Linked DNA regions of Homo sapiens. The protein of the gene in region 1 interacts with the protein of each later gene in a pairwise test. Each region holds a gene or a part of one and is shown on either strand. Other genes may lie near its edges. The genes, in order: MFF, TMEM97, PLLP, RAET1L, CYBC1, FDCSP and C3orf52.

Region 1 (3,500 bases):
CTTCTTCACATGTGTGTATGTCTGTGTGATACTCGAGGCTGTGGGAGTACATATTAAAAAATATGCATGTGCAACTGCAGTTCTAAGAAAGGATTTATTACAGAATACAGGAAATACGTATGCAGGGATGCTGTGCAAGCTGCAAGGAGCGGTTTCCAAAATGGAGTTATTAAACACAGTAACAAAGGTTCCAAAGTAATTGTTCCACATTTCAAAAGCCAAACAAGCAACTGATGGCTGTACTGGTTTGCTAAAGATTCTTTGTTACTGGCCAGAATTACATTAATCTATCTTGGTAATACTGTTTTACGGTGATCAAAACATGTAAATGGTAGTTTAATATATCTTTAATCAAAATGAGAAAATCAATGATGGCTTACTAGTTTGATAGTCCCACAGGAGAGAAAATAATAAAATGTTGAGAACTATCACTTTAAAATATTGTATGAATATAACTGAGAAATATATCTTATTTGGTACACTAAATACCTGTCGTCTTAGTGAAGCTGCATCTACAACAGTCAGGTCATCTGACGTTCCTTCAATGGTTGTATCTATATTTGAAATGCCATACCTGCAGATAAGAGATAGAAATACAAATGAATAGTAAAGTAGAACTCAGAGTAAATGGCACGCCACATCATGCTTTGTGTAATGCTCAAAGTAGTATTCAGAAAATTGGTACTTAATAATATGAATTACTAAAATATTTTACTACCTGAATTTGTACTAATAAAGGAAAGAAAAAAGCTTAAAATGACAACTGTCTACAATATTGAAAAAGGGCACTAAAAACTGGAGAATGGGAAAAAAATCCTGACTAAAGAAACACATAGAAAATTCTCAAGCCAGAAGGATTGGCGATGCTAAAAAGGGTCCCTGGCTGAAAAGGTTTGAGAGCTGCCACTTAGGATAGAACAAAATATAATTCTTACACAAACTTATGTCCATATGTAAGCCCATAGGCACAGACTCACTAGCAGGGAACACAAAGTAGACTAACTCTAAAAAAAGAAAGACTCATCACCTCTTCTCACTGCCTCTTGTCTTGCCATTTTTATTCTTTACTTCTTGTCTTTTTATTTTTTTGAGACAGAGTTTCACTTTTGTTGCCCAGGCTGGAGTGCAATGGCACAATCTCGGCTCATTGCAACCTCCACCTCTGGGGTTCAAGTGATTCTCCTACCTCAGCCTCCCAAGTAGCTGGAATTACAGGCACCTGCCACCATGCCCGGCTAATTTTTGTACTTTTAGTAGAGATGGGGTTTCACCATTTTGGCCAGGCTGGTCTCAAAGTCCTGACCTCAGGTGATCCACCCACCTCAGCCTCCTAAATTGCTGGGATTACAGGCCTGAGCAACCACGCCTGGCCTATTCTTTACTTATTTCCAATTACTTATGCTCTACTGTGTTCTCCCGCAGAAACAATTATAAAATCTCCTGAATACATCTTACCACTACATTTAGCTCCAGAATTGGCCCAATAATGAATAAAATGCTGTGTATAAAATAATACTGAAAAACCATTAAGACAAAATCCAGAGAAAGCATATTAAAAAAGTACTTTTTGTTCCAATGTAGTTACTTCTAAAGCGGCACTAATTTCTAGGTGAATGACACTAAACCTCTGAAAAACAAAGACAAACGCCATTCCTCTTCTTTGCCTGGATTTCCACATTTTAAAATTTAGTTTAATTAATAGCTTCATTGAGATACAACTTATATAACCACATAATTCACCTCACATGTATTTTATACCCTAAATGGTTATTTTAGTAAAATGGCATAGTAAATTTTCTAAATGAGCAGAATATAAATAAACTAAATTAAAAGTTATTCCTGTGTAGTCCAGAGAATTGGCAAATGGATCATCTATTCTAATACCTATCCCAGCAAGTCCCCACTACAAAAAGTACATACCCACAAAAAGGGATATGAAGCAGAATTATACTTTTCATCCAGACATGTTAAAGACAAGTCTACTCAGAAAATCCTTTTGTTTTAAATATTGTTAAAAGTAATAAAAATACTTTAATAAAGTATGCAAAAAACCTTAAACAATAGATGGTGTGTACTGACTCTAGATAATCTACAACCATCTCCAAATATTCCTTCTATGGCTAAATTATCCTGCTTTCTCATTAACTGTCTCCTTATTTCATGAGAACACAGTAAACAACCTGGAGCAGTTAGGGTAATTATACCAGTTAGAGAAGTAAACTTCTAAGTTAGTAGATGCTGGAACTATGGGTTTACAAATGATTAGTGGAAAAAATAAAGGTAGAAGATTCCCTTTTCCTTCACTTCATCCTCAAAATAAAACTCTTCTCTTTCTCTGAGGCCACATAACAGAGGAATAATTAGGAAAAAAATCAAACAGAAGCAATTGTTAAAGGGATCTGAACTGAACATACAGAATGAAGTACAAATGAAAGCGATTACTCACAATTTATATCCTGAATTAACTAAGGTTTAGATATCTGAAATCTCGATTTGCAAAGAAATATAAGGATATGACAAAAGATTTTACCTATATACTTCAATTTAAAACAAAAATATGTTACTTTACATTGTGTTTTAAACAAAAACCGTATTTATTAGAACTAAAAAACTCTAATGCTAAGTTAGACCACTGGCTGAAAATACTCTGACAGAAAGATAAAAGATCACAAACTTAGAGAAAAATATAAGGGAAAACGACAATGAACTGAACTAAGATTGTAAAAAGAAACAAGTCAGCAGAGTGGTAAGGGATTACCACAGGCACGCTTTTCAATTCCTCCACCATGAATTCAATTTTAATGAGCAGCTAATGCTTCCCTTTTCTCTTGCTTCAATGAATGCACCAACTTCTAAGCACAGAAACGATGCTGCCAGTTTTAAATCTACTGCTACCGACAATATATTTCTGCTTAAATAAAACTGACTGAAAAAATTATACAGTAATAGCATCTGTGAATACCAACAAGTTTTTGATTTTTTCCAGACTATAGGAAAACTAAATGGGGATTTTGGCACTTAAGAACTGCATGTATTTGTATGTGCCATTCTGCCAGCCTCTGTGCGTGTCAGGAAGAAAGGAACGCTCAACCTACGCGTGTCTGAAAGTGTAAAAAGGGCAAAAATAAGAGAGAAGGCCTTAAATCAACAGATGATAAAAATGCTTAAAACTAAATTTCCTTTCTAAATATGTACCTTCCCAAACTGTGGAGTTGTTAATGCTGATTTCTCCCAATTTAAGATGAAGCCTTACAAACAAAGACAGGTTTGTTCACACACTAAAAGTAACATTCCAGATAATTAACAACTTAAAAGGAAATGCTGGGCACAATTCAGGCAACCATTAAAATGATGTACATAAAATAAGATTTAAGACTTTTTTCTGTTTTAGCATGTAAATTATTATAAACCACCTATAAACTATTAACACTACACTTAAATAAAATAGCTGTTCACATCATACCATAATTATTAAACATTTTCCCTCATACTAATTGGCC
Region 2 (3,493 bases), on another chromosome or scaffold:
ACCTGATTTCTGAGTAAAAATGGGATTTTCCCACCATTTACCAACCTTTGAGGAAGGCATACGTTGCAATGGGAAAGAAAGGCAGCTGAAACACAAGCTCGCAAAACAGAAAGGACTTAAACCAGGCTGGGGGCTCCTGTAGCAGTGGGTCTTTGAACTCCTTAGCATACCACTTCAGCAGGTTTCTAAACTGAAAAAGAAAACGATCATGATGAATTACAGCCACTTGCCCTCAACAGGCTCGGCGCTAGCTCATTTGAAAATACACTGGAGGAGCCTGTCATTAATTAGCCACCCCCCACTACCCCGGCAGCAGATGGCATGTCCAGCTGGCTTTTGTGACACAGCCTAGGTGGTCATTTAATAAAAACTTACTATCCCTAACTCAAATGTTCCCTTCTCTGAAATTTTCTCAACTCTTCCAGCCCCTTCTTTGTGTTACCCAGAATCTGTTCATAATTCCAAGATAACACATCCAGGTGTGTTGGCCACTGTCAGGAGCAACAATAAGTATCTGGCACTTGGTAGGCACTCAGGGTGTTCGCTGAATGAACAAATGTGACATTTCTGTCAACAATATCATTCTTTGTTTAAAAAAACAAATACACATGAAAACCATCCTGACACTTTCCCTTTTGTAATGGCAACTACACACCAAACTCCTCCAAAGGCCAGATTCCCTCAAATGCAGAAATGAATTGAATTTCCCTCTTCTTTTTGCGGGGTGGGGGTGGGAGTGAAAGGGGAAGTAAATCTAACCTCTGTGGCGATGTAATTTTGGACACTTTAATTCCAATATGACAAACAAGTTCCTTAACTCCCCTAATTCTAATTTTTGGTTTATTTTAGGAGACAGGATTTTAGTGGAAGAACAAACTCTGCCCCAAACTACAAACTACCTAGTAGCTTCTTGGTTATGCAGGGTTTTAGCGTCTCAGTTCTAGCTTGGGCCCCACGCTTGTAATTACCTTGTCAAATAAAAAGGATGCGGATCCATGCTGACCTGGCTACAGGCAGAGAAAAGAAGCAGAGTTTAAGGCTTCCCATCTTGGGCTTTTATAGGAGCCCAAAGCCTAGTGCTCTTGGCTCTATGTGGACTACTAAACGTTTGTCACATTTAACCTCCTAGATGTGGCGCTGCCCTGACACACAGGCCTTCAAAGACAAATAAGTCTTGATATTATGATTAATAAAGGCAACTCCAGGGTAAGAATTTATCTTACTTACAATGGAAAATCCAAGAATATTTTTCCTGTTAATTTTTAATCAAAAGATAAAGCCTCGCTATTGTGAAATAGAAGCCCCACTGCTGCAAGAGCACTTTAAGCAAACATCCAGAAACAAATATCCTGTTAGCATATTATTAATTTCAGAAAGGCTTTGGCTAGATAACCAATTTATTGACCAAAGGATATCCAAATTTGTACTTAATTTGAAATTGAAATTCATAGCAATGCCCTTCGCTTCCTTCTAAGCACTTTTCTGGATGGGAATGTGGTTTGAATAGGATTGAATTGATAAGAAACACAAAGGCTAAGTCACTGTCCCTCTCCAGGGTTCTACTTCCTCATCTGTAAAATGAGCAACTTGGACTAGATGTTTTCTTAAGATCCCTTTTTTGCTTTTTAGATTTTTAAAAATACTGGATGACACTACCTGCTTTAAAAGATTGACTATAAAATTATTATTATTTTTTTTGAGACAGTCTCTGTTGCCCAGGCTGGTGGAGTGTGGTGATTTGATCTCGGCCCACTGCAGCCTCAACATCCCGGGCTCAGATGATTCTGTCACCTCAGCTTCCCCAGTAGCTGGGACTACAGGTATGCGCCACCAAGCCCAGCTAATTTTCTGTAGAGACGGGGTTTTGCCACATTGCCCAGGCTGGTTTCGAACTCCTGGGCACAAGCGATCCTCGCTTCAGCCTCCCAAAGTGCTGGGATTACAGGTGTGAGCCACTGCACCCGGCCTGACTGCAAAATTTAAGAGGCATTCTGGGCCAGGCCCGGTGGCTCATGCCTATAATCCCAGCACTTTGGGAGGTCAAGGCGGGTGGATCACCTGAGGTCAGGAGTTTGAGACCAGCCTGGCCAACATGGTGAAACCTCGTCTCTACTAAAAATACAAAAATTAGCTGGGTGTGGTGGCTCACGCCTGTAATCCTAGCAACTCTGGAGGCTGAGGTTGCAGTGAGCCGAGATCGAGCCACTGCACTCCGGCCTGGGTGACAGAGCGAGACTCCATCTCAAAAAAAAATTAAAAAAAAAAAAAGGCATTCTGGCCATTTGAACTTCACTTTCTATTCAATTTGTTTACAACCTCTCTGATCCAACTATTTCATAAACTGAGGCAGACTTGTACAGCACTTTAATTTCTAAGGCCTACAAGATGAGATCAGCAAAATTTAAAAAACAATCACCCAGATGTCGTAATAATGAATTATCATAATCGTAACCAACCATCTGCCCACAGTCATATACCTGCCACCTGATGCCAGAATGAGGCTGGGACTAATTGTGAGTAGGAGAGTAGAAAGCCCAGGCACCTGGCAGATGGGTGAGGCGTGTAGGACCTGGGGTAGAGTGCCTGGCTTTAGGCAAGGCCTTTAATCTCCCTACACTTGTGTCCCCATCAATAAAATAGAGCCAGTAATAGTGCCTACTTCACTATTGGTAAGAGAGTGACTTAATACATGTAGTCTTTAAAATAATGGCTAGCACATAATGATTAATTGAATGTAATTAATACATATTTGGAGATATTCAAGTTTAATCCCATTAAAATCGCAGCTCACGACTGGTCATTAAAAATTATTAGTTATGGCCTCCCTACCAAAGGTAATGAAACTGTTTCCACTTATACCTGACTCTATTTGACTCAACCCACCCTTGTTATACATAAAAGATTCACCTGGCCTGCACGCACGATCTCTAAACCAGTGGTTGCTACTCACCAATCTTGTACTTCTATAATTTAGAATGGGAACACAGACTGATTTCAGAGCCAGATGCTCACTTGTTTTTCCTTATTTTTACCAGAAGCAATGTTACCCAGCTGCAAATGATACTACAAAATGCTTCCCATCCTCTCCTTACCATGTTCTTATCCAAACTAAATTCTTACTGTTTCATAATAAAATAAGAGTTTTTCCAGGCCAGGCGTGGTGGTTCACACCTGTAATCCCAGCACTTTGGGAGGCTGAGGCATGCAGATCGCTTGAGGTCAGGAGTTTGAGACCAGCCTGGCCAACATGGTGAAACACCATCTATAACAAAATATAAAAATTAGCCAGGCGTTGTGGCAAGCACCTGTAATCCCAGCTATTTGGGATGCTGAGGCAGGAGAATTGCTTGAACCCGAGAGGCAGAGGTTGCAGTGAGCCGAGATTGCACCACTGCACTACAGCCTGGGCGACAAGAGACTGTCTCAAAAACAAAATCAAAAAAAAAAAAGAAAGAAAAACAAAAAGTAAATAAAAAAATGAGTTTTTCCAAGC
Region 3 (3,500 bases), on another chromosome or scaffold:
CTACTAAAAATACAATAATGAGTTGGGTGTAGTGGCAGGCACCTGTAGTCCCAGCTATTCGGGAGGCTGAGGCAGGAGAATGGCGTGAACCCGGGAGGCGGAGGTTGCAGTGAGCTGAGATTACGCCGCTGCACTCCAGCCTGGATGACAGAGCACAAGAAGAGCTCTCAGATGCACCAAGTATGAGAAAAGCAACTTGCTGAACAAAGGATACAGAATAAAACTATCAATGTTTTCAAAAGTGCACAGGAAAAAAGACTAGAAACACCCCAAATAGTTGTCCCCTTAGGGACAGAGGTGGGTAATCCAACTACAGCTTTAGTGTAATCTGTACAGGTTTTTTTATTTTGTGAGGAGAATGTATTCATATATTCATAATGTAATTACACATTAATTCCCAAACACTCAATACTCCCCCCCTTGCAGTAAGTGGGGAGTGTGGGGGGAACTAACAATACAAGGCATTTATTGCTCTGTGCAGTGGAGCTGGGTTGGATGAAGATATTGGGCATGCGGGGCCTGGAATGCTGTACTAAAAAGACTGAACCACCCACAAATCTCAGTGCTAAGGGAAGCCCCGGGAGTCTCAGACATTGCAATCCGAGTGTGACCAAGCCCTGCTCACACCTCACTCGGACTCCAACAATCTCATCTAGGTAGCCCCTTCCTGGAGACCAGAGTTGGCTTTCAGTCCCTGCCCTGCCCTTCATCTGCAGAGGAGCTGGTCTGCCTCCTGGGGCCGGAGACAGAGCCGGTATCACCATAAGGAAGAACTTTCCAACACTCCCAAGTGCCCAAGGATGGAGCAGGCAGCCTTAAGAAGAACTGAGCTCCCTGTCTCTGGAAGCATGCAAGTTCATGTTGGAGATGCTGCAAAGGCACCTCTTATGCTTGCATAAGAACCCTCGGATCCTATAACCCTGTGAATCCAAACTGTCCTTCATTCCCACATATAGTGCTAGGCTAGCTCTTTGCAGGCATGATCTAGATCCTGCCATCACCATCTGACAGACAAGGAAGTGAGGCTCAGGGAAATTTGGGAACTCCCCCAGGATCATGCAGCCAGAAAGGGACAGAGCCAGGATTTGAACCCAAGGCTCTCAGCGTCCAGGCCTGTGTTCCCATCAGCACTCTCCATGCCACCCCATGGATCATGGAGATCTAGGGAAGGCTTCTCTTCTTCTTCTTCCTTTTTTTTTTTTTTTGTTAAGAGTAGAGGACTGGGTACAGTGGCTCACACCTGTAATCTCAGCACTTTGGGAGGCCAAGGCAGGTGGATTGCTGGAGCCCAGGAGTTCGAGACCAGTCTGGGTAACATGATGAAATCCCATCTTTACAAAAAATATAAAAACTTAGCCAGGCATTGTGGCATGTACCTGTCGTCCCAGATACTCAGGAGGCCTGAAGTGGGAGGATCGTCTGAGCCTGGGAGGTTGAGGTTGCAGTGAGCTGTGATCACACTACTATAGTCCAGCCTGGGTGACAGAGCAAGACCTTGTCTCGAGGAAAAAAAAAAAAAAGTAGGGGTCTTACTCTGTCACCCAGGCTAGAGTGCAGTGACGTGATCATGGCTTACTGCAGCCTTAAACTCCAAGGCTCAAGCAATCTTCCTACCTCAGCCTCCCAAGTAGCTGGAACTACAGGCATGTGCCACCCTGCCACCTGCCTAGCTAGGTGAGGCTTTTGATCTGTTATTCACCTGCAAAGTGGGAATTGTGTGGCCACCCCCAATCCCAGGAGGTGGGGCAAAATGGAAGGACAGAAGGTACCAAACCAAATGGCCTTACCGCCACAGGGCATTCACACAGCTTCCACATCCTGGGCCTCAAGGACGCCTACTGACTGACAGGTCTCTGTACAAGCTCTGGTCTGTCCTGATCCTCCTTCTCCCTTCCTATGCCAGGAAGCCCTCCCTGATGGCCTTGGCCCCTGATGAGTCTCCCTTCCTGCAGTCCCCCTTTTCCCCCTAGAAAGCACTCTAGAACTTCCCACCCCCAAAGTAAACAAGATGAGGAAGCATAGCTAGAGCCAGGTTTTGGATTTCCAGATCGAAGTGCAAAGCCAAGCTTGCCACTCTATCCTGTGTGACCTTGGACAAGTTCCTCACCCTCTCGGAGCCTATTTACTTATCAGTAAATCCAGATAAGATCATCCTTCTCCCCACGGCTTGGGGAGGCTTGAAAAAATGAGAGATGGGCACCTAACAGCACTACTTTATACTTATTGTAAAAAGGCTTTGGGAGCTCCCCATAAGCAAATAACCACGCCTTCTGCATTCTTCCACCTGAGCTACACAAAAATCTGTAGCACTGATGCCTTTTTTTTTTAAAACCAAAAGAGTTATCTGTAGATCAAACTTGCCTGCCTTGTGACATGAATCCATTGGCAAGAGAAAACAAAACAAAACAAAACAAAGACCTGCCTCCTTTTTTAGACGCTATCTGCATAGATTCTTCATGTTTCCCTTTTTGCCTAGGCTGCTAGGAAGTTCAACAAATAATCAACAGCCTTAAACTTGCTGCAAGTCAATTCTCCCCTCCACACCACCAGCTTTTAAAGATACATCGCTTTAACTCTTCTGTCTTATGTGGTTTAATATCATATTCCATCTGGTGTTCTTTCTGAATCTACAAGGAATAACGATAGTGATAAATCAATGAACACCACCAGACATCTGTGAAGAATACTGAGATTGGTTCTTCAGGACACATTCTGATACCGAATGAAAAGTGTATCTCCTTCTCCAGGAGCTGGGAGCCTTTCTACCCACCTCCCCTTCCTCCCACCATACCAGGAACATTCATCAAATCCTGGGAAACAGAAGGGTTTGATGGAGAATTAGCTTCCATTTTCTCATTTATTTCCTGCTCCATGCAGCCTTCTCTGATCCCTCTGGGAGAAGCACATCCTCTGGGCACCTCTCTCACTGACCAAGAGCTCCTGGAAAGCAGGCTGTGGGCCCAGGGTCCCCACCACTCCCTCCATAATGACAGATCCTGGGAAGGTAGCAGCAAAGCCACACGTGGTCATTAAGACCATAGGCCAGAAAAGTCAGAAAAATCACTCCTGTGGAGGAGGGCTGTGAGATCTTGGGCAAAGAACTGGCCTCTGAGCCTCAGTTTTCTCACCTAAAATGGGGCCGACTAAGAAGATCTAAAGGCCTTGGCAAAGGGCCTGAGCCTAGTGCTGGCCTGATAGATGGGAGCTACCATGGCTTCCCAGCAGATGGTGGTGCCTGTTGGATTAACCCCCACATATCCCATTTCAGACCCAGTGGAACTACCTGTTGCCAGAGAAACAGCTCAGGATGCAGCTTCTCCAACAAGCAGATTTTTTTTTTATTTCTTTTTTTTTTTGAGACGGAGTCTCTTTCTGTCTCCCAGGCTGGAGTGCCGTGGCGCCATCTCGGCTCACTGCAAGCTCCACCTCCCGGGTTCACGCCATTCTCCCGCCTCAGCCTCCCGAGTAGCTGGGACTGCAGGCACCCACCACCATGCCAG
Region 4 (2,349 bases), on another chromosome or scaffold:
CCTTTCTAGCAAGGTCATGTGTTGACTGATGTGGGCAGAGGGGCAGTGGGACATGTCTGGGGACATGTGGTTTCTCAGCAGACAGAGACTTCCTCCTCCTCCTCCTCCTTGTCCTCATGCAAGGGGCGAGCACTCGCCTTAAACTTGTAGACACCACAGTTCTGGAGGGGGCACTCCTTCCTGGGCCAGCCCAGCCTGCCAGAGGCATCCTCTTATTGACACAGCGTGGAGGGGGGCTAACTAGGGGTCTTTTCCTCCCCACCCACCCCTCACCTGCCTTTCTCCACAGACCCTCACTCTCTTTGCTATGACATCACCGTCATCCCTAAGTTCAGACCTGGACCACGGTGGTGTGCGGTTCAAGGCCAGGTGGATGAAAAGACTTTTCTTCACTATGACTGTGGCAACAAGACAGTCACACCCGTCAGTCCCCTGGGGAAGAAACTAAATGTCACAATGGCCTGGAAAGCACAGAACCCAGTACTGAGAGAGGTGGTGGACATACTTACAGAGCAACTGCTTGACATTCAGCTGGAGAATTACACACCCAAGGGTAAGTTTCAGATGGCCCAGGACAGCAGGGAGCAGATACAGTGGTAGGTTAGAGGCATTTATAGTTTTCATGTAAAAATACAAAAGGGTCCTGGGCACGGTGGCTCACGCCTGTAGTCCCAGCACTTTGTGAGGTAGAGGTGGGCCGATCACAAGGTCAGGAATTCGAGACCGCCTGACCAACATAGTGAAACACTGTCTCTACCGAAATGCAAAAATTAGCCAGGCATGGTGGCGCATGCCTGTAATCCCAGCAACTTGGGAGGCTGAGGCAGGAGGATCCCTTGAACCCGGCAGGCAGACGCTGCAGTGAGCCGAGGTGGTGCCATTGCACTCCAGCCTGGGCAACAGAGTGAGACTTTGTCTCAAAAAAAAAAAAAAAAGCCAGGTGCAGTGGCTCAAGCCTGTAATCCCAGCATTTTGGGAGGCTGAGGTAGGCGGATCACAAGGTCAAGAGATCGAGACCATCCTGGTTAACACAGTGAAACCCTGTCTGTACTAAAAATACAAAAAAATAGCCGGGTATGGTGGCGGGCGCCTGTAGTCCTAGCTACTTAGGAGGCTGAGTGAGCCGAGATCGCGCCACTGCACTCCATCCAGCCTGGGTGACAGAGCGAGACCCTTTCTCAAAAAAAAAAAAAAAAATACAAATGGGAAGGTCATCTTACCCCTCAAGAGTCTAGAGGCAAGGCCAAGATGTAGCAGAGAGAGTAAGGCCAGCAAATTGTAAGGGGAACAGGATGGGGGTGCAAAATTTGTCAAGATCAGAGCTGATCTCTCTCTGATGGGGGCAGAACCCCTCACCCTGCAGGCAAGGATGTCTTGTGAGCAGAAAGCTGAAGGACACAGCAGTGGATCTTGGCAGTTCAGTATCGATGGACAGACCTTCCTACTCTTTGACTCAGAGAAGAGAATGTGGACAACGGTTCATCCTGGAGCCAGAAAGATGAAAGAAAAGTGGGAGAATGACAAGGATGTGGCCATGTCCTTCCATTACATCTCAATGGGAGACTGCATAGGATGGCTTGAGGACTTCTTGATGGGCATGGACAGCACCCTGGAGCCAAGTGCAGGAGGTAACAGGAGAAAAAGAAACGGGGATCTTAAATGAGATCAGAAATGGGGATCTCAAGAAGTTAGTTCTTGAGTTCAGCTTCAATCATCCCAGTGTACACGTTTATGTTAAAATGACCTCCTCGTCGGGCCCTCCTCCTGGGGTTACTGGCATGCCTGTGCCCTCCCACCCTCCTCTTCCTTCTCCCTCCTGACTCCTATTCCTCACTGCACTTGCTTCTGCTCCCCACACTGTGGATTTCTCACCAGCCTTGAAACTGCAGGTGTCACTGTTTTCAGAACTTTTTCCTTAGTGTTTCCTCTTTTGAGAATCACTTTTCCTTTCCTTTCCCTGGTCTGGTTCTGGAAATCCATCAAAACCACTTCCAACACCAGCCAGAGATCCTCCCCTCCCCAACTCTGGGGCATCACCTCCTCTTCCCCCACAGCAGGAGGGTGGGGTGTGTTGTCACCTTGCTTCCCTCAGCAGCTGTGTGAGCTCCCTGAGGACAAGACACACCCCGTCTCCCTTCCTAAGCCAGGACCTGTCATACTGGCTGCCCCACACCAGGGGGGAGGGGACAAAACTTTTGCCTTCCAGGATGACCTAGGGTGGCAGGAACTGAGGAGGTGTCTCCTCAGATTTGGGGCCTGGACAAGGGTTGTCACTTTTGTGTTTCCATTTCAGCACCACTCGCCATGTCCTCAGGCACAACCCAACTCAGGGCCACAGCCACCACCCTC
Region 5 (2,833 bases), on another chromosome or scaffold:
TGGCTGCTGAGCCAGGGCCACCCTGCAGTTTCCCGTGGCAACTCAGGGCAGCCACCTCTTCGGGTACTGGGGCGGTCCCAATGGCTGTCAGAAAACGGCACAGCTGCCTCCCACAGCCCAGGCCAGCCCTGCAACTGCTCTCCCCAAAGCCACAGGTGACCTGGGGCCAATGCCCTGGCCAGGTCCCTGCAGGGATCCAGGAAGCAGCCTGTCAGAAGTGCAGCATTGCGGCACTAAACCCAAGACTGCCCAGCAACTCTGGTCGCCAGAATCTGTCCCCTCTGGGGCTATGCATGGGCGGCCGGACCCCGGGGCCTCTGTCTGTCTGTGCGGCAGCATCTACAGGAAACTGGTACTGACCACAGCTGGGCCAGTGCCCAGGCTCAAGGGTGGGGAGTTCCTCGGACCATCCAGCCCCTACTGCAGGCCCAGTAGAACCCACAGGAAAGCTGGAGCAGCGCCAAGGCCCGCAAGAAGCCAGGTGGCCCCACTCCAGAACGCCCACGGGCTGCCATGGCTCTCCCTGCCCCGTCCTGTGACCTGCCGCTGGGGCCAGACTGCACCTGCGGACAAGTGGCTGCCAGGCAGACGGGAGAATGCAGCTAAACAGAGGCTGCCCGAGCCCGGGTGGGCCAGACCCCTGCTCCTCAGACCCCTGCTCTGCCAGACCCCTGCTCCTCAGACCCCTGCTCCTCCCACTCTCCCCAGGGGCCAAACCTCTAAAGAACCCAGGAGGCTCTAGGACCCTGCTGAGCAGGTGAGCAGGTGGGGCGTATCCGTGGGATCCTGCTTCCAGCGGGCAGGACACAACCCTGGTCACCAAGCAGGTGAGCTTGGACCAAAGGCACTTCCAGGCCCCCCTCTAGGCCCCGTGAGTCACCCAGACGCCCAAGTGCGCCGCCTCTGTGGCCGTGTCCCATGTCCCCACGCTCCCCACGACTCACCCTGGTCGTGGCCAGCTCTGAAAAGAGTCAGCAGCTTCTTGTAGAGGCTGAACGTCTTCAAAACAACCTTCCCTGTGCTCTTGTCGAAGATGGCTTCCTGGAAACCGACATGCACTGACCACCATGAACCTCCAGGAACGGGGGCCCCGTGGCCGCTGGGGCCTCACCCCCACCCTCACCAGGGTGGACACTCAAGAAGGGGGGCTGGGGACCCTCCCAGTCAGAACCCAAACCCCTGAAGCCACAGGTGCTGCTCTGTCAGAGCCGGATATCGGCAGCCAACCCGACTCCTGTTGGGAAATGGAGAGGTGGGCAGGTGCAGCAGGCGCTTGCTCCACCCTGCAGGCAAAACAAGTGCAGGGAGGCAGTGGAACCAGCAAACGAGGGCATGGAGGTCAGAGGGCAGCACTGGGCCAGGCTGAAAGGACTCATGAGGGGCTCCGAGGTGGGAGGGCCGGCCACGGGGAAAGCTGACTCGCATCCCATTGTGGCAACTCTGGGAAGAAAGCACTTTGGTGAAGATAGTCATGGAGAGCTTCTAAGAGAAAAATGCCTTCGGGGAATTCCTTGGCCAAGAACGGTCCCAGATGAGTGCAGGGGCCATGTCCTGATGAACGGAGACCTCCAAGCAGGGACCAACGCTTCAGGACGGGGAGGCGCTAGGCCACCCAGGGCCCTTCCTCCTCCTTTCATTCCCATTGCAAAAAACCCAGGAGCTGAACAGCCCTGGACTCTGTCCCGCACCCGAGCCGGCCTTACCTCCCAGTCCTCCAAGTTCTGCACAGCCACAAACAGGCAGCCTGTGACGTAGAAGAGCTTCCAGCCCAGGCTATCTGGAGATGGGCATAGGGCGCCAGCCTGTGAGCTCCAGGGACATGCCCACGGGAGGCCCCGCCTAGCACAGCCTCCCCCAGACGCTGGCCAGAGCCCACGCTTGCAAGGACCCCCTGGGCAGCTTCCTGTGCTGCTGACCCTGCCCTGGCCACTCAGGACCCACACGCGGCACACCCCACCCAGCTCTGACCCCCAGAGTCCACGTGAGAGAGGCAGGTGGGGCGCACAGGGCCTCTGCCCGTCTGGGCAGGCCCAGTGATTGTGGCAGGGTGGGAAGTACACCTCATCCCACAGCTGGATCTTAGATCCTCAAGAGCATCTCTCCGGGAATATTTGATGACCCAAAAACACAGAAGACTTAAGAAGTGAAATGTGGCCGGGCGCAGTGGCTCACGCCTGTAATCCCAGCACTTTGGGAGGCCGAGGCGGGCGGATCACGAGGTCAGGAGATCGAGACCATCCCGGCTAAAACGGTGAAACCCCGTCTCTACTAAAAATACAAAAAATTAGCCGGGCGTAGTGGCGGGCGCCTGTAGTCCCAGCTACTTGGGAGGCTGAGGCAGGAGAATGGCGTGAACCCGGGAGGCGGAGCTTGCAGTGAGCCGAGATCCCGCCACTGCACTCCAGCCTGGGTGACAGAGCGAGACTCCGTCTCAAAAAAAAAAAAAAAAGAAGTGAAATGTGGGCTGAGCGCTGGGCAGGATGGGCGTGCGGAAGAACAGCAGCGCATGGAGGGCGCGGTGCCCGCCAGCAATCAAGGGGCAGAGGTGCCGATCCTAAAGGCCGCCCCATGGACAGTCACAAATGACAGTTTTTCCTTCTTTTCTCTGTTTTCCAAACAGCTGAGACAGTCATGGGGGGGTGGGGCGGGGGGTGCTTTACCTCCGCTGTAGTAGGCAGCAGCCAGGCCAATCGACAAGATTCCTATGAAGAGAAAGTGACTGCCTGCCTATTGATCCCGGTAAGACCCCACCTCCCTGGTGCAGCGGGACCAGGAGCCACAGCCCCTGATGAGCAGGCCCTTCCCACTGTAGGAACAGCTGTGGTCAGGGGTT
Region 6 (4,203 bases), on another chromosome or scaffold:
GCCCTTAAGAATTATACTAAATCTACTCTTCCTGTGCTCTGTGGATGGAACAACAAAGCCTGGATGGCAGTACATCTAACACAGCATGGTTTACTAATATTTTCAGCTCACTTCTTAGGAAAAAATGTTTTTTTCAAAATATTGCCATTCATTGAAAATGTACCTGAGCCCCCAAGAACTCTGAAGCAGATGTACAAAGAGATGAATGTTGTTTTCATGCCTGCTAACACAACATCCATTCTGCAGCCTATGGATCAAAGAGTAAATTTGACTTTCAGGTTTCATTATTAAATAAATACATTTTGTAAGGCTATAGCTGGCACAGATAGTGATTTATTTGATGGATCTGGGCAAAGTAAATTAAAAACCTTCTGTAAAATATACACCACTCCAGATGCCATTAAGACCATTTGTGATTCATAGGAGGAGGCCAAAATATCAACATTACAGGAGTTTGGGAGAAGTTGATTCCAACTCTTGTGGATGACTTTGAGGGATTCAAGACTTCAGTGGAGGAAGTAACTTGCAGATGTGGTGGAAATAGCAAGAGAACTAGAATTAGAAGTGAAGCTTGAACATGTGACTTAATTGCTTCAATCTAACGGTAAAACTTGAATGAATGAAAAATGGCTTCTTATGGATGAGCAAAGAAAGTGGTTTCTTGAGATGGAATCTACTCCTGGTGAAGATGCTGTGAATATTTTTCAAATGACAGTAAATGATTTAAAATACTACATAAACTTAATTGATAAAGCAGTGGCAGGGTTTGCAAGGGTTGAGTCCCATTTTGAAAGAAATACTGTGGGCAAAATGCTTCACATGCTCCAAAATGCTACAACATCGCATGCTACAGAGAAATCTTTTGTGAAAGGAAGAGTCAATCTGTGTGTCAAACTTCATTGTTGACTTATTTTAAGAAATTGCCACAGCCAGCTTAGCCTTCAGGAACCATCACCCTGATCATTCAGCAGCCATCAACATCAAGGCAAGACCCTACACCAGCAAAAAGATTATGACTCAGTGAAGACTGAGATAATTGTTAGCATTTTTGAGCAATAAAGTATGTTTTAATTAAGATATGTATGTTGTTTTTCTAGACATACTGCTATTACACTTAACATACAATGCTGTAGTGTAATCATAACTTTTATGTACACTGGGAATCCAAGAAATTCATTTGACCTGCCTAACTTTGATACTCATTCTATGGTGGTGGTCAAGAACTGAACCTGCAGTATCTCTGAAGTTTGCCTGTAATATCAGTTTGGAAAGTCCCTGATTTATGGATCTTTTAAGCTCACTGTTACATTGTTATAAGTAAATACATTACAAAGCTTTTTAAAGACTATTTAATTTAATATTTTACATTGGGGAAAATGTCAATTTTTAATATCATTATCATTTTGAAGTACCTTTGAGATAGTGGAGATTCTAGGGAAATTTTATCACCTTTTGATGTTTCCTATACATCTATGAGACAAAAGAACGCAGTGTAAAAAATGTAGCAAAGTTTTGATCTCTGCCTTTATTTTCTGATACTAATCAAAATTTGAATTCAAATTCAAAAAAGTACCAGATAATCTAATAATTTTGAGAAGACAGGAATGTAAAATTCCGGTCAAGTTCAGACTTCTACAGGCAGATTGTTAATGTAGGAAATCAAGAGTAAAAATTATACAAACACACACATGCACACACTCACACATACTCCTCACAGACACACACATACATATACATAGTCCACTTTCTATGTGCAAAGCAACAATGCTGGGTGCTTTCAGGGATACAATGATAAAGCATAATTTCTTCCACTTGAGACTTCCACATGGAAGATGGATACAGATATTTCTGTAATGTGAAAAAAAAGCGTGATATATACCATATGTAGAAATTGCAAAATATTTTGAGTATTTAGAAGAAGAAAGAGGCAGGTTGAGAAAATAGTTTTGGAGAGAATAGAATTCAAGCAGGGCCTTTACAATATAATTTCTTTCAACTGGTTTCAAGAATTATTCAAAACTACATTAAGCAAATAAGTAAATAATCCACATTACAGACTCTTCCAGATCATATCTTAGAGTCAGGACACAGCATAATTACCAGCTATCTCCTTTTATTTTTATACTTATCAAGTCATGATACCCATAGCAGTTTATTGCTGCGTGCTGTAGAATAAATGATTCTCCAGATAAATCAGATGCATCTTCCTAGATAATTAATTTTATTCAAGAGTTTATGGGAAAGACAAATGACTTTTATATTAAAATCAACATAAAATGTTATGGAATGGAATGTAAGTACTGTATATATTTTAAAGATAAAAGAGGAGGCCAAAGAAATTGGCACTTGCTCAGACTTTAGAGAATCTCTGGCGGGGCGTATTCCCTCTGTTTGCTGACCTGATGGCCACAAATTTAAAAATAAACCTGAGGCTCTGTTGTTTCACTCTGTCCACACTCTCCCCCACCAGTGCTCCACTCCTAGAAAGATTCATTTATGGTCACTCTAAAATAAATATTTACTACAGCAGGGTGGTGATTTTAAAAAAAGTTTTGCAAACAGAATACTAAAAATGGTTTTCTAATTACTAAGTCTACAAATTCAAGCAACCATTACAATTTAGTCTCAACAATTAAAATTTTTATGATTTAAAGAAAAATATATGGAGAGATGCTATATATCTATATTTACAAAATAGATATACAATCTTAGTTTACAATGATATTTAAGACCTTTCTTACCTCAAACGTTTCAGTCAGTTCTTTCTCTCTGACGCTGTTATGAGAAATGGCAAGTGACTGGCCCTGGAATATTGTAGCTGTTTTATATACTCAAAGGTATAATGGAATGGAGAAATCTGTGGCTTAAAGGCCTCTCCCCTAGGATCAGTTATTACTCATCAACTATCTCAATATGTTGAAATTGGGGAATAACCAATGTTTAGTTTCCTAGAAACTACCAAATACCAAAATCTTTTGTGGTTTTTTTCTCCAAATTTTGTGTCTTGTATATTTGAAGTTTATCACTTTACATGTTGTTGCTCCATTGTCTACTCTCACAATTTTTTCCTTTACTTCCCACAATTTAAAATACCTCTAAGCATTTTACTGGTATTGATTATAACCTATTGCAAAGCATATTTGATAGTGCTGGAATCTTAAGAAAATAAAAAATCTAAAAATTGTTTAAGATGGGATTAAAATCTTTTGCATGATTCTTCTTTCAACTTCTTCATTTTATTATCAGGATTAGAGCTTCGTAGATGAGTGAATTGTATTTTTGGAGCACCACAGCATCTTGTTTACCTTATGGAACACTATACTCTATTTCTCAACTAAAAATTCACTTACAGCAGAAAAGGTATCATTATTAAGTGCGGGAACAGAAACTAGGGCCCACAAAACATTCAAGAATTACCTTAAATATGCGTGCATATTGTATATGCCTTTTTCAAGAGTCATAAAATTTGAGCTTTAACTAATTCGAGAGCTTTTAAGAATATTCTGTTATTGAGTTCGATTTCTACTTCAAAAGAGGTTATATAGTCCAGATTGTAGTAGTAGTGCATCAAAGTCCCTTTTCTTCTTTTTATTTTTTCTAGAATTCAGTTCTCAAGGCAACTCAGAAAAATAATAGCAGGTAAGTTTTTTTGAGGACTTTAAGTGCTGAAGCACAAATTTAAATGCTTTATATATATAATATAATTAAATCTCCCAAACAACCACCTTAAGAGGAAAGTACTATGATCAACACCATCCCATTTTGAGACTGAGAAGCAGAGAATATTAGTAATCAGTCTGGGTATTACAGCTAGTCTCTGGCAGATATTGAATTGAGCACCAGCAATTTGGTTCTAAAACCCACATTTATAACTGGTGCCTTATACTGTCACTGTTAACAGAAGGTTAGAAAAATCAGCACAAAGCCAGAGAAACATTAAACTACTTCCTTCACCTATAACTCAACGTTTAATCTTATCTCAATGATTTAAAGAAAACTGCCTGAATCAGAAACTTAATATATTAAACCTGTTATGTTATTGTACATATTTTGACCAATTTGGGGCTCATAGTACATTTCCCCAGGGATGGGGATGACAGGTGTGTGTGTGTGTGTGTGTGTGTGTGTGTGTGTGTGTGTGTATTATCCATTTCCTTACCTAAAACCTGTCGTTCAATTTATTCTACTTCAATTTCTTTTATC
Region 7 (3,500 bases), on another chromosome or scaffold:
CTTTTCCTGTGCATACCTCTTTATGTCTTCTTTTTTTTATTTTTATTTATTTTTATTTTTTTGACAGAGTCTCACTCTGTCACTCAGGCTGGAGTGCAGTGGCGCAATCTCGGCTCACTGCAACCTCCCCTCCCGAATTCAAGAGATTCTCCTGCCTCAGCCTCCTGAGTAGCTGGGATTAGAGGCACCCACCAACACACCTGGCTAATTTTTGTATTTTTAGTTGAGACAGGGTTTCACCACGTTGGCCAGGCTAGTCTTGAACTCCTGACCTCAAGTGATCTGCCCGCCTTGGCCTCGCAAAGTGCTGGGATTACAGGCGTGAGCTACCACGCCCGGCCCCTCTTTACATCTTTAATACTAAACAAGGAGAATGTACTCCTGTATTACTTGTGCTCCTCAAAAGCAAATGCCTATACATGTATCACTCGCATCACAGCACGACCTGAGATCTATTTCTACTTCTACCCTTAGCTTATTTGAGCATTCATTGTTAAACAGAAATGGTTTACCTGGGACTGGCTTTTCCCCTCTTCTGTGTGACCCTGGTTGAATTATACCATTAATCTGGGCTTCCTTTTTCTCATTTGTAAAATAAGGGAGTTGAGCCTGTTGGTGTAAAAGACCTTCCCAGCACTGACATTCTGTGATTCTATTACAGGTTCCCTTCATGCTCTGAGGCTCTGGGAATCCCTGCTAGGTAAATGACGAAGGGTGGGGTGGGGGGATCTCTTTCCAGAGAAAGAGAGCAAAATGTAATGTTCCACACTCTTACCTGAAGTCCACTATTTCAACTGAAGTAAAATAACGACCCAGAGAGGGCGATGTACTGTACACATCTGTGAGCTAAACAAACAGAAGCAAATTAAACCACACACATTACCGACAGATCATATTACACATCACCTGACAAAGCAAAACTGCTTCTAAGGCAGAGGAGATTCCACTCCAGCCTGGAATCAACGTTATCTGGAAGCTCTGGATCAAGAATTGAGCCCACCATAAATCAAAACTCAAGTTAATGCTACTTCAAAAGAACTCCATTTATAAGGACCAAATGACTCAGTTTCTCTCAGAAGTTGCACTGGCACCCTGTGGCCTTAGTGGTGAGAATATCAGCAGCTGGAGCCCACACAGGCCTCACAGACCATAGGAAGGAGAGAAGAGAAGACCCCAAAATGGCTGCTGGACAGCAGCAGCACAGACCACTTAGCACCTGGGACATTGCTTAGCCCAGGGCTTCTTTCTCCCTTCTCCAGAGCTTCAGTGTAAAGACAAACAGCCATGCTAAGCCATGGGTCTAGCACATCCCCTGGACAAAGAGACAAAGAGGGGAACTGCAAAAATATGGAGGCTTTATTTTATGCATGAAATATTGCAAGCATCATAAAAAATAATGACACCTGTGTTTCCACTACCTAGCTTTCATGTCTTCATATTTGCTATATTGGGTTCAGCCCTTTAATTTAAGAAACAAAATAAAGCTAAAGTGACTCCTACATACTATTCAGTTCCTCCTCTCTCTCTTTCTTAATACTAACCATCATTCTGAAGCTGGCATGCATCCTTTCCTTGCATATTTTTACAAATTACTACTTATTTATGTAATCATAACAAAATATAATTTGTGTTTTTATTCAAATAAAAGGCACCATATTCTACATAATCTTCTAAAACTTGCCTTTTTTCACTCAAAATTACATTTAAGATTTACCCATAAAGTAAATCTCAATGAAAGGCATTCACCTAACTCCTGCACAGATTCCTTTAAATGAGTATACCAGCCTATCCATTCCTCTGATGATGATCACATGCACTATTCTCAATTTTCCCCATCACAACTTATGCTGAAGCAATCATCCTTAATGTCTCCATGCATCTCTTCTTGGACATGCGGGAGTTTCCAATGGGCATATGCCAAGAAAAGGAATTGTTGGGTTTAAGGGTAGGTGCATCTCCAACTTCACAAAATTGTTCTCCCTTTCCCACCCCTCCCAGCAATGTATAAATATCCATTTCCCACATCCTTACCAGCACTTAGTGTTACCAAACTTAAATTTTTACCACTCCGAGGAGTATAAAATAGTGCTTCACATTGTTTTAATTTGTACTGCCTCGCTTACTAGTGAGGTTGAACATCTTTTCATGTTTATTAACTCTTTGGGACTTTTCATCTCTGAATTTCTCACTCATTTCCTTTCCTTCTCTTGGCTTATCTGTCTTTTTCTTATCTATCTGAAGTGGTTAGTTTTATATTCTGGATACTAGTTGTTGATATTATGTTACAAGTATCTTTTCCCAGGCATTGAGTAGTTGTGTTTCAGATATCTGAATCCTAAACTAGTAGTACTAGGAACATGTGCCATCCCCAGCTACAGCCATTATGGCTTAATGACCTATTACTTTATTCAATAACAAGCAGTCGAACATACAAAAAACAGCAGTGCCCTATGGGGAGCTTACCCTGTTTCCCCTCAACTCCAAATGGAATGTCAAGGACGCTGCACTTCCACAATACACTCCCATTTAACTCAACATGTACAACCCATATCTCAAAGAGAACAAAAGATGAGAGTGCCTGCTATTTCTGCTCTTCTAATCTTGTCACTACTGTTGTGATCTTTATAAAAACCTGGCAAAACAGGCATTAATATATCTCCCCTTTTTACTGGAAAATTAAACAGCACTCCATTCCATGAGATGAAGAAAACCTGTCCCAGGTCACTGTGCTAGTAAAAGGAGAAGCCAAAATTCAATCCTACATGTTATGAACACTAAAAACCAGCTTCTTCCCATCTGACCACACTACCCAGTGAAGAAGAAATTGATATATATACAGTGAAGGAAAGTGTCTCCTGAATATCAAGGAGGAAAGAAGCTTAAAGTGACAAAAACTTTCGGAGAAAATGACTGAGTCATTGTACAGCTCTTAAGCCCCAATGCACAGGATGTTGCCGATAGGCTGACAGTCATTTAGAAAACTCGGGAACTAGGAAAGCAGCTTTCACGGGGATGCTGTGATGGAGAGGAGGATGAGGATGCTGCAGAGGAGAATCTTTTCAAGCACTAATGTCAAGCACTCATGTCTTTCTCTTCCTTTTGGATTGAGCTTCCTATGGCAAAGGTGATATTTATCCTTCCTTCCAGTCTTCTCTGCTTCCTCCTTCCCTTCTTTCCTTTATTAATCTTTAGGGCCCAGCACAGTGTTTTGCACATAACAGGCTTTCAGCAAATTTTTAAGTTAAAATTTTAAGGTAACATATGGAGTGGTCGACTAAATCATTTTTAGTGTTCACTCGAAGATTCTTTTTGATCATGCTCCTCTGCTGTACTTAGGACATATTTACATTTGGGGAGCTGTTAGTCACACTGTCCACTTTGGGCCCAAAGAAGTGAAATAGGGTGGTTCCTCAACCCTTAGTCTTGTGTCTCCCACACAATGTCTATGAGGCTTGGTGCAAACTGAGCAAGGAGCTCAGCGAATTGATTAGCTGAGTCTG

Evidence for each region.
Region 2: the proteins of MFF (region 1) and TMEM97 interact in binary tests that used the Homo sapiens proteins (3 or more experiments, as listed by UniProt).
Region 3: the proteins of MFF (region 1) and PLLP interact in binary tests that used the Homo sapiens proteins (3 or more experiments, as listed by UniProt).
Region 4: the proteins of MFF (region 1) and RAET1L interact in binary tests that used the Homo sapiens proteins (3 or more experiments, as listed by UniProt).
Region 5: the proteins of MFF (region 1) and CYBC1 interact in binary tests that used the Homo sapiens proteins (3 or more experiments, as listed by UniProt).
Region 6: the proteins of MFF (region 1) and FDCSP interact in binary tests that used the Homo sapiens proteins (3 or more experiments, as listed by UniProt).
Region 7: the proteins of MFF (region 1) and C3orf52 interact in binary tests that used the Homo sapiens proteins (3 or more experiments, as listed by UniProt).

What each region holds. Positions count from the first base shown.
Region 1 is NC_000002.12:227,352,751-227,356,250, reverse strand, and holds part of MFF (mitochondrial fission factor), read right to left. Parts: intron 575-3,500; coding exon 490-574; intron 1-489. UniProt on the Homo sapiens protein: Plays a role in mitochondrial and peroxisomal fission. Promotes the recruitment and association of the fission mediator dynamin-related protein 1 (DNM1L) to the mitochondrial surface.
Region 2 is NC_000017.11:28,322,200-28,325,692, reverse strand, and holds part of TMEM97 (sigma intracellular receptor 2), read right to left. Parts: intron 191-3,493; coding exon 46-190; intron 1-45. UniProt on the Homo sapiens protein: Sigma-2 receptor which contributes to ameliorate dysfunctional cellular processes and slow degenerative progression by regulating cell functions including cholesterol biosynthesis/trafficking, membrane trafficking, autophagy, lipid membrane-bound protein trafficking, and receptor stabilization at the cell surface.
Region 3 is NC_000016.10:57,278,173-57,281,672, forward strand, and holds part of PLLP (plasmolipin), read right to left. Parts: intron 1-3,500. UniProt on the Homo sapiens protein: Main component of the myelin sheath that plays an important role in myelin membrane biogenesis and myelination. Plays an essential function in apical endocytosis. Regulates epithelial development through the regulation of apical endocytosis.
Region 4 is NC_000006.12:150,020,184-150,022,532, reverse strand, and holds part of RAET1L (UL16-binding protein 6 precursor), read left to right. Parts: intron 1-289; coding exon 290-553; intron 554-1,346; coding exon 1,347-1,628; intron 1,629-2,293; coding exon 2,294-2,349. UniProt on the Homo sapiens protein: Binds and activates the KLRK1/NKG2D receptor, mediating natural killer cell cytotoxicity.
Region 5 is NC_000017.11:82,444,920-82,447,752, forward strand, and holds part of CYBC1 (cytochrome b-245 chaperone 1), read right to left. Parts: intron 2,703-2,833; coding exon 2,661-2,702; intron 1,778-2,660; coding exon 1,704-1,777; intron 1,042-1,703; coding exon 945-1,041; intron 1-944. UniProt on the Homo sapiens protein: Functions as a chaperone necessary for a stable expression of the CYBA and CYBB subunits of the cytochrome b-245 heterodimer. Controls the phagocyte respiratory burst and is essential for innate immunity.
Region 6 is NC_000004.12:70,224,721-70,228,923, reverse strand, and holds the start of FDCSP (follicular dendritic cell secreted peptide precursor), read right to left. Parts: upstream 2,801-4,203; 5' UTR 2,742-2,800; intron 1-2,741. UniProt on the Homo sapiens protein: Can bind to the surface of B-lymphoma cells, but not T-lymphoma cells, consistent with a function as a secreted mediator acting upon B-cells.
Region 7 is NC_000003.12:112,106,889-112,110,388, reverse strand, and holds part of C3orf52 (TPA-induced transmembrane protein), read right to left. Parts: intron 847-3,500; coding exon 776-846; intron 1-775. UniProt on the Homo sapiens protein: Has a role in LIPH-mediated synthesis of 2-acyl lysophosphatidic acid (LPA). LPA is a bioactive lipid mediator involved in different biological processes, and necessary to promote hair formation and growth.